Homo sapiens: one gene and its partner. The protein of the gene in region 2 purifies or fractionates together with the protein of the main gene of each other region. This does not show direct contact. Each region holds a gene or a part of one and is shown on either strand. Other genes may lie near its edges.

Region 1 (5,249 bases), on a different chromosome or scaffold from region 2:
AAGAGTTAACTGTGCTGAAAAACTAATAAAGAACCTAAGAAGAATTCCAGTGTGGTGATGCCATGCCCATCATGGGAGGCTTTTGGAGAAACAGAATGTTTGGGCAGGGGCTGCTGGTGCTGCTTGGGTTTTGGGTTGAGGGTGCTAGGAGAGGATGGTCTCCACCCATCTTTCTATTTCCAGTACACGTCACATTATTTTACCGGTGAGATGAGAATGTCACAAACATTAAAAGCCTTATGTGCTCATTTCTGCTTATGTGCTCATTTCTCCCCTGACTCTGTGACAAAATACAGCTCTCCTCAGCCAGGCACGGTGGCTCAAGCCTGTAATCTCAGCACTTTGGGAGGCTGAGGCGGGCAGATCACTTGAGGCCAGCAGTTCGAGACCAGCCTGGGCAACATGGTGAAACCCCGTCTCTACTAAAAATACAAAAATTAGCTGAGCATGGTGGCGCGTGCCTGTAATACCAGCTACTCGGGAGGCTGAGGCAGGAGAATCGCTTGAACCTAGGAGGCAGAGGTGGTAGTGAGTGGAGATCGTGCCACTGCACTCCAGCCTGGATGACAGAGCAAGACTCTGCCTCAAAATAAAACAAAAAAACAAAATACAGCTCTCCAGAAAAAAATGCCTTAAAGACAAAACAAAACACCCCTGCCCTCCAAATCTCTTGCCTGAGTCACTACATTCCTTCAAAGATAAATGACCTACTCTTTGCCTTCTCCTAAACATACGATCATGTCTGACAGGGTTAATGATTATACTCTGCAATCTATAACCAGATATACTTATCCCTAAACTTTGATATGATTTTACACATACTAAATCTTCACCTATGTATAACCTAAACTAAAATACCGTGTTAGAGGAGCCTCACAAGATTACTCCTGGGCTACAGGCCTCAGTCTATAGTCCTCAATAAGGCTTCTAAATAAAACTAATTTTAATTATTTAAAAGCTTAATATTTTTTCTTTAGTCAACATACCAATCCTTACATTAATTCTACAGAGTAGGTATTATCTTAGTTTCGCAGGTGAGGAGACTAAGGTTCAGGAAAAAGGATTTGCCTGAGTAACAGACCAGGCCGCGCGCGGTGGCTCACGCCTGTAATCCTAGCACTCTGGGAGGCCGAGGCGGGGGGATTGCCTGAGCTCAGGAGTTCGAGACCAGCCTGGGCAACGCGGTGAAACCCCGACTCTACTAAAAATAAACACAAAAAATTAGCTGGGCATGGCAGCGTACGCCTGTAGTCCCAGCTACTTGGGAGGCTGAGGCAGGGGAATTGCTTGAACCCGGGAGGTGGAGGTTGCAGTGAGCCGAGATCGCACCACTGCACTCCAGCCTGGGCGAGACTCCCGTCTCCCCAACGCGCCAAAAAAAAAAAAAAAAAAAAGGAAAAAAAAAAAAAACTGAGTGTTGAGCTGCGGCGTTGCTTGGCTTCAAAACCCATTCCTGTAACCTCTATATTCACAGCCTCATTTTCTTACATTTAACAGCATGCTACTTCCCCAGGTTTAACCACCATTTGTTTTATTCATTTATTTACCCAATAGGTAGATATTGAGTCCCTACTATGTCAGCTAATAAAACCCACCACGTGCTATGCAGCAGATTAAAAACGAGGATGTACTGGCAAATAAGGGCAGAGAGGATCTATTCTAGATCCAGGAGCCCTCTAGGCCACGCCACTCTGAAACACACACGAAAACTGCTCTGAACGAATACCACCAGTAAAAGGGTTCCATGGCCATCGGCAACAAGGGGTCGAGATCAGGAGGTCGCTCGCCGCCCAGTTGCGTCGCTCACCACCGGCCGGCCACCAGACCCTCGGCTTCCGATCCAGAAACCGTATTTTGTTCTTGCACCCAGACCGCAAGAAGCCTCAGCCCTCGGGGACAGACCGAAGGCCAGGGCTGTACCTGGCTCAGAACCAGGCGCCAAGCGGCACGGGACTCTCCTTCTGCACTCGCAGCGCGTGAGTGCAATTGGAGATCCTGGACTCAAGATGTTTTCATGAGGAACGATTCCAGCCCGCGGTAACTCCGGCCAGTCTGCAGCGTGGACGACAAAACAGGCACCACGTGGTTCCGGCGCCGGGGCGGGGCCAGAGACGCCGGAAGTGACCGCGCGGTGCGCCGGCCCGCGAGGAAACGCGCTCTTAGACCATGGCGACCCAGGCGAAGCGTCCACGGGTGAGTGGCGGGCGCGGGGTCCAGCCTTTTCCTCCGCGCCTCACCCCTTCTCCGTTCGCAGAACCGTCCGCCTGCGCCCCCTCCGCTCCCTCCCGCGGGTCCCGCGCCCCTCTCCGCTCGTCCCCTCCTCCACCCAAAGCCCGTTCTGCGCTCGCGCCGCGGTCTCCTGCAGTTCCCAGCGGCCTCTCTGGGGGTCGGACCTGGTCACTGCGCGCACTTATCTCAGGTGGCGGGGCCCGTGGACGGCGGCGACCTGGATCCTGTGGCCTGCTTCCTGAGCTGGTGCCGGCGGGTGGGGCTGGAGCTGAGTCCCAAGGTGAGCGAGCGAGCCGGCGGGCGGAGGACCCGCGGCGGGGCGCGGGCTGCCCTGACCAGCCCTCCTGCTCAGGTGGCGGTCAGCCGGCAGGGCACGGTGGCCGGCTACGGCATGGTGGCCCGGGAGAGCGTGCAGGCCGGAGAGCTGTTGTTCGTGGTGCCGCGGGCCGCGCTCCTGTCGCAGCACACCTGCTCCATCGGCGGCCTGCTGGAGCGAGGTGGGCACGGCGGCGGGCTAGGGCCCTGGGGCGGGGCGGGGCGGGGCGGGGCGGGCCCGGCCCGCGAGGCCGCGCCGGGGCGCTCACACCTGTGTCTTCCTCAGAGCGAGTTGCGCTGCAGAGCCAGTCGGGCTGGGTGCCACTGCTGCTGGCGCTGCTCCACGAGCTGCAGGCCCCGGCCTCACGCTGGAGGCCCTACTTTGCGCTCTGGCCCGAGCTGGGCCGCTTGGAGCACCCGATGTTCTGGTGAGAGCCTTGGGAGGGGTTGGGGAGCGCCTGCACCGTAGCCTGCTGCAAGAAGTTTCCCCGCCCCTGCACCAGTCCTACCCAGTAAAGTGTGTGAAGGAATGAAGGGAACCTGGGTGTGGGTGTCCCTGCAGGCCAGAGGAGGAGCGCCGGTGCCTGCTCCAGGGCACAGGCGTACCTGAGGCCGTGGAGAAGGATTTGGCCAACATCCGCAGCGAGTACCAGTCCATCGTGCTGCCCTTCATGGAAGCCCACCCCGATCTCTTCAGCCTCAGGGTTCGCTCCCTAGAACTCTACCACCAGCTGGTGGCCCTTGTGATGGCCTATAGGTCAGTGGGTGGGGCCTCTGAGGACGGAACCCTTTTCTTTACAACTCTATAGAGGGACAAAAGTGGAAAAACAGTGAAATCCACCCCCAGTCCCTCACCCAAGACAGGGCCTTAGCCAGGTTCTGTCAATGGCAGCTTTCAGGAACCACTGGAGGAAGAAGAGGATGAAAAGGAGCCCAACTCCCCCGTGATGGTGCCTGCTGCAGACATACTAAACCACTTAGCCAATCACAACGCCAATCTAGAATACTCTGCGGTGAGTGGAGTTTCTCTTGGTGCACTGATTGAGCATGATTCAAGCCATTGTGTCTTAGGCTCCATTCTCTTACTAGTGCTACAAAATGAGTAGGTGAAATCAGCTCCTCCTGTATGTCCTTTTAGTATGCATATTACTGTAGAATCATTTGAATGCGAAACATTTTAAAGTCCTCAAAGTAAGTTGTGGTTAATCCTCTGATAAACTATACTACCATCATTTATTTAGTGCTAGACATTGAGTGGTCTGCATAGCCATGTTTCATTCCTTTCTGGCTGATCACATCAGTGAGCCCAGACTGTGTGTGGCTCTGTGGATAGCAGCCTGGAACAGTGATAGTCTCCGTGTTTTGGAGGGATGAGGACATTCACAGGCCAAAGGTCTAAGACGATCCTAGAACTGATATAAAGCTGTGTTTATACCAGCTCTATTCTATATAAAAAGTAGCCTGAAAAGATGGCACATTTATAGGATCAGAAATTAGTAAGTATGGTTATTTCTTAATCCTTGCCTCCATTTTCCTTTCCCACTTTGATCTGCGAAAGTTCCATTTTTTCCCCCCCGAGGCGGAGTCTCACTGTGTCGCCCAGGCTGGAGTGCAGTGGCGTGATCTCGGCTCACTGCAACTGCCGCCTCCTGGGTTCAAGCAATTCTCCCTGCCTCAGCCTCCCGAGTAGTTGGAATTACAGGCTCCTGCCACCATGCCCGGCTAATTTTTGTATTTTTTAGTAGGGATGGGGTTTCTCCGTGTTGGCCAGGCTGGTCTTGAACTCCTGATCTCAGGTGATCTGCCCACTTTGACCTCCCTAAGTGCTGGGATTACAGGTGTGAGCCACTGCGCCTGGCCGAAAATTTCGTTTTTAAAGCTAGCAACTTTTTAAGTGCTGAAGAGGACTGTGCAGAAATCCACCCAGTTAAACATGAAGCTGGCCTTTTAAAGTTAGCCCAACCCTTTTTTGTTTCACAGTTTAGGGTCTAACAGGAACTAAAGGTAGAACTTTGGTAGTTAACAGCATCAGTCATGGCTGAACTACACCTGCTGAAGGCTCTTCTTAAGTGGAAATAATCTTCATGGGGCTGGCCCGTGAAAGGCATGGCCCCAGCTTCTCCCTTTCACCTCAGAATTGTCTTCGGATGGTAGCCACTCAGCCCATTCCTAAAGGCCATGAGATTTTCAACACTTATGGGCAAATGGCTAACTGGCAACTGATTCATATGTACGGTTTTGTTGAACCATATCCTGACAACACAGATGACACAGCTGACATTCAGATGGTGACAGTTCGTGAGGCAGCATTACAGGGTGAGTGTATCATTAACTCAATATTTGACACTGATGGTGTGTCTATACCCATGCCTCAGGTTAAATAGCTTTGCTAAATAGCAGTTGACTTTGTAGACTGGGTGGCAGACTAAAGAAGAAATGAACCCTTGGGTGTACTGAGACTTTCACATTGCTGTTTCATCTACAGGAACAAAAACTGAAGCTGAAAGGCACCTAGTGTACGAGCGCTGGGATTTCCTATGCAAACTGGAGATGGTAGGGGAAGAGGGAGCCTTTGTGATAGGGAGGGAGGAGGTGCTGACTGAAGAGGAGCTGACCACCACACTAAAGGTAAACGGCTGAAAATGGCCATTTAATGCTGATAATCTAAGTATTTAAAGCAAAATAGCTAGAAGATGAGAGAGGAA
Region 2 (4,477 bases):
TTTAAGCACATGGACTAGTTTACTTGTTTTCATAACATCACCTTATAACTGTACTGGCAGAGTGATGACAAGAACTTCAGACGTGGATCAACCTGGAGAAGGCAGTTTCCTCCTCGTGAAGTACATGGAATCAGCATGATGCCTGGGTCCTCAGAAACATTACCAGCTGGATTTAGGTTAACCACAACCTCTGGGCAGTCAAGAAAAATGACAACAGATGGTACAGTAGTTTTGCATTGCTGCTTATCAAGCAAAAAGCTTGTTTAGCCAAAGCTAGTATAATTCTCTGACCTTGCTTTTTGGAATTATTTTCTTGAGTTGGTTTGCTCTGCTTGAAATTTACTTTGCTCTCATCACAAACCAGACTCCTTTTTACACTGCTATTGCATGAACTCATGGCACTTTATTCACATTTTCAAAATAATTTATAACATCCCAAAAAGAACAATTTGGTTAATGTCCACCTCTAGGAGGAACAATAAACATCGGCAGGATTTGTGTTTCTTTAGTCTTCTATTCCCAAAATTAACAATTTGTTTAAGTTAGAGGTTGGACTTGGACTAAAGATCCATAGTAAATGGAAATTAACTCCACTGTCTCCCTACATGTTTAAATACTGCGAGTTTTATATGTCATCTTAGAAATTCACTCATCAAATATTTTTCCCTCTAGCCAAAGCAGAAGCCCTTAAATAAACAAGCCATGAACATGAGAAGAGAATTAAAGAAACACAAAACACAGTAATTTCCCAATTACTATTTCCTTCTGTGGACATTAGACTTAAGCTATCTAATTTACAAAAGAAAAGTCATTCCAGAGGAGAGACAACTTTGAAATAGTAGTCACAAAATTATTTCTGTTTGGGAGGCATTAAAGAAAAATAGTCCCATGCTATTTGTTAAGATAATCACCTAGCATCATTATTTCTTGTCAAGGTCACAGTTATTATAACTCAAATTTAGTTCCAACATAAACTGTGATCTTGATCTACATTTCTTACAACTTGTTAATACGGTGGAACATGTCAGCGAAATTCATGAGGAATTTAACATCATTACAATTAGTGTAGAAGTTCTTCAATACTTGGAAAGGAAAAAAAATCCACTATAATGAGTTCTCTAAGAGCAATCTCCATATCAAAATCAGAAGCACCCTCGGGAGCTGCTCTTGTTACCGATTTTATCTAAGGAAGAATACATAACAACTCAAAAGCTCAGGTCATTTACATTGGGATAAATTTTCATTAGGAACTTGATCTAGAGAAGAGGAATGTGAGTGGCTTATATCTGAGAGAAAGAAGGTCTACTAATATGTTCGGAATCCCTGTATGCAGGGAAAATAAATCTTTCTCATCTGAAATCTTGTACTCAATCATCCAAGTCCCTCTAAAGCCCTTTTCTCCATTTGCAGTTGCTTCATCAAGACTGCAGAGGTTAGACAACTCCACTGTTCGCACATACTCATGTTGACCAGCCACTCAAAGGAGGCAGCACTGACCTGCTGTGAGTAGTTTCCCTTTGGCTGACAAAAAAAAAAAGACAAAAAAATGGAACCTACATAGACTAATAAATATACACTATACTCTTTGGTATGCCCTAGCAGTACAGAAATGAGATAACCCTTTTGAATTGCTTCAGGGGAAAAAGAAATCTTCATATTGTAACACTTAGTCTAGCATTTCCTATCACCATCTGTCTCCTGTGGTTTAAGGTCTGCCTGTTGGAGGCCTATCACTGTATTATTACACATCAATGGGTTGCCACTACACTGTTTTCTACTTTTTAGTACCATTTCCTGTTGAGTAACTTAGCATTTTATTGATAATAATTCAGCACTTTAAAAAATCCTATCTTTTTAAGTGTATATTTTATATAAGGAAGCCAAGGTAGCGGATAGGGATTTAAGCAAGTTCACCGAGTCAAATAGCAACAGACAGGAAAATGATTTAGAGATGGTTTCATATTAAAAAATAGAAACTTGCCGAGGCAGGTGGATCACTTCAGGTCAGGAGTTAGAGACCAGCCTGGCCAACATGGTGAAACCTCATCTCTACTAAAAACACAAAAAGTAGCCAGGCATGGTGTTGCACTCCCATAATCCCATCTACTTGGGAGGCTGAGGCAAGAGAGTCACTTGAACCTGGGAGGCAGAAGTTGCAGTGAGCGATGGTGCCACTGCACTCAAGCTTGGGTGACAGAGCATGACTCCGTCTTAAAATAAATCAATAAATAAATAGTAGAAACTGTGAAAAATTCAAACCTTTATTACATTGTTTCTTATCAATCTGATTTACACTTGCTAAAAACAAATATAAATTTTAAGTATTTAAGACATATAGGAACAAAATAAAATTACTTTAAGAATGGAGAATAGGACCAGCACAAAACCTTCCTATGTAACCATAAATACCAAGCATTTGATTTTAAGGAAATACCAATTAATGAAAGCTACTTTAAAATCCATATAAAAATGAGGTTTTATTGAAAAACAGTCTTAATAGTAAAACTGTGGTTTCTTAGATTTATAAATGTCAAATGTTCATAATTTTTTTTCAACCTAAAACTATGCTTTACCAAAATATTTAACCACTTTCGATGAATCAATATTTTAGAAAAATACTTTTTAAGAGCGATATTTAGAACAAAATGTGTGCACAGGGTTAAGAGAAAACAGTTATAGACAGAGGAACAACTCACCTTGTGCTGTTTTCATTGCCTTGAACTAAAAGTGCCACACAATTTATTGTTGGTCTTTTGGGCTTAGGATGGGAGCAGATATGCTGCCTTATTTGGATCACTATTTGAAGCTGATAAAATGAAAAGCATCCCGATAAGAGATTTAATTTCAGAATGTACAACCCTTACATTAAAATTTTAATTATGGTATATAATTTGGCACCTAATTAGACATGATTTAAAGTATATAATAATTTGGCTAAATAAGAGGTCTCCCAAAATACTGTTTATATTAGATTCTACACATAGCATTATAATTTCTTCAGGAAATGAACACTTCACTAATTTACAAATGACTATTTAATATGTTCAATAGTGCTTGCTTCTTAGCTCTTAAGTGATGGGTAGAGTTACTCTATTTGCAATCTGTTTTTTGTGCATGACATTCTAGTTCATATTTCCTAGTTTTTACCATTAATTGGGATAACAGTATTCATTTACAATAATTCAATCTAGGACAACCATTTTTTGTTTGGGTGAAACAACAACACTTTTGATATTAAAATAATCCAGAGCATACTACTTGCTGTTTCTTTTGTGTCAGTAATAGCAATTGTGAGCTTTTTCTAAGTACATTATGGCTGAAAACAATCAGCAATGCCATACTACTGACACAAACGTTTACAATAGGTGACTTATTATCGTTATGTTTTTGTAACAAATAAAGGTATTTTTTAAGAACTCTAAAATATATGAACTAGAATATAAATCTACATTATGAAATAGGTCAATTCAACCCAATTTATTAATTAGCAAGTTGTAAATTTTTCAGAAGGCATGCTAACATTTTGCATAACTACCTTTGTTTACATTACTGCCATACTTTCCACAAAGTTGAGCAAATTCTATTATTTGTTAAGCTCCCCTGCACCAAATTGGAGAAAAGCAAATGTTAATTACATACGGCTGTTGGCTACATCCTAGATGATTTCCTTCTCATGATCTTCTAGGACAGGAGTAAGCAGGCTGCGTGGAGGTACACCACAGAGGAGTAGAATGAGATTTCCCAGTCTGGGACTTTTCAGTGAACTAATGCTATCCATTGTATATTTTAGATGGCGTCTTTTCAGTCTACTCTACCTAAAGTGCACTACCATCTAAGAAGACGAGCAGTGAAAACCTTTGTGAAAACTGAATTCTAAGGAAATAATGACGTCATGACTTATTAAAAGCTGAAAAATGTGATTTTTGGGGGGAGTCAGATATTACATTTGATTAGTTTACTACAAATTGTAATAAAATGCTTAAGTCATTTGAATAATAAACATCATCTACATCATAAACTCTGTACAACAGATGCTTTTATGAAATGAAGCCAGTTGTTTTTCATGTTTTATTGTAATATACTAGGCATTTATGTATTACCGTGCATTTCTTTTTAAATGTGTAAGTCTTATGTAAATGGATATAAATATGATTTTTTAAAAAATAAAATATATGGTTCATGGAGTCTCGAGTGCAAACATTTGACAATTCCAAGTACTGTTTGTATTTTACCATTCCACCATTTTTACAGTTTTTGGATTGTTAATAGTCAAATCAATATGTTTCCTTGAAGCATGTTTCATGCTTCAACGTGTTTCTCCTTCAAGTCTGTCAATACTTAAAGCTGAACAACCTGCCTCTGATCATGTAAAAAAGAATGATTTAACCTGGAACCGGAGCCAAAAATAGAGCTTTAAAGGCAATCAGGGATGTCCTATATCTTTAGAAATAGCACTGTGATGGCTTGATCTCCTTTT

What was found. Proteins that work in one complex are often made in the same cells at the same time.
Region 1: the proteins of PPFIA2 (region 2) and SETD6 purify together in Homo sapiens (affinity purification with mass spectrometry; one large-scale study listed by BioGRID and IntAct). This does not show direct contact.

The regions. Positions count from the first base shown.
Region 1 is NC_000016.10:58,513,372-58,518,620, forward strand, and holds the start of SETD6 (N-lysine methyltransferase SETD6), read left to right. Parts: upstream 1-2,145; 5' UTR 2,146-2,166; coding exon 2,167-2,193; coding exon of another isoform or gene 2,194-2,419; coding exon 2,420-2,726; intron 2,727-2,830; coding exon 2,831-2,972; coding exon of another isoform or gene 2,973-3,077; exon of another isoform or gene 3,078-3,106; coding exon 3,107-3,301; intron 3,302-3,436; coding exon 3,437-3,557; intron 3,558-4,524; coding exon of another isoform or gene 4,525-4,536; exon of another isoform or gene 4,537-4,648; coding exon of another isoform or gene 4,649-4,679; coding exon 4,680-4,860; exon of another isoform or gene 4,861-4,861; intron 4,862-5,029; coding exon 5,030-5,172; intron 5,173-5,249. UniProt on the Homo sapiens protein: Protein-lysine N-methyltransferase. Monomethylates 'Lys-310' of the RELA subunit of NF-kappa-B complex, leading to down-regulation of NF-kappa-B transcription factor activity. Monomethylates 'Lys-8' of H2AZ (H2AZK8me1).
Region 2 is NC_000012.12:81,258,974-81,263,450, reverse strand, and holds part of PPFIA2 (liprin-alpha-2), read left to right. Parts: intron 1-60; coding exon 61-220; intron 221-1,410; coding exon 1,411-1,469; 3' UTR 1,470-1,502; intron 1,503-2,240; exon of another isoform or gene 2,241-3,790; coding exon of another isoform or gene 3,791-3,819; 3' UTR 3,820-4,477. UniProt on the Homo sapiens protein: Alters PTPRF cellular localization and induces PTPRF clustering. May regulate the disassembly of focal adhesions.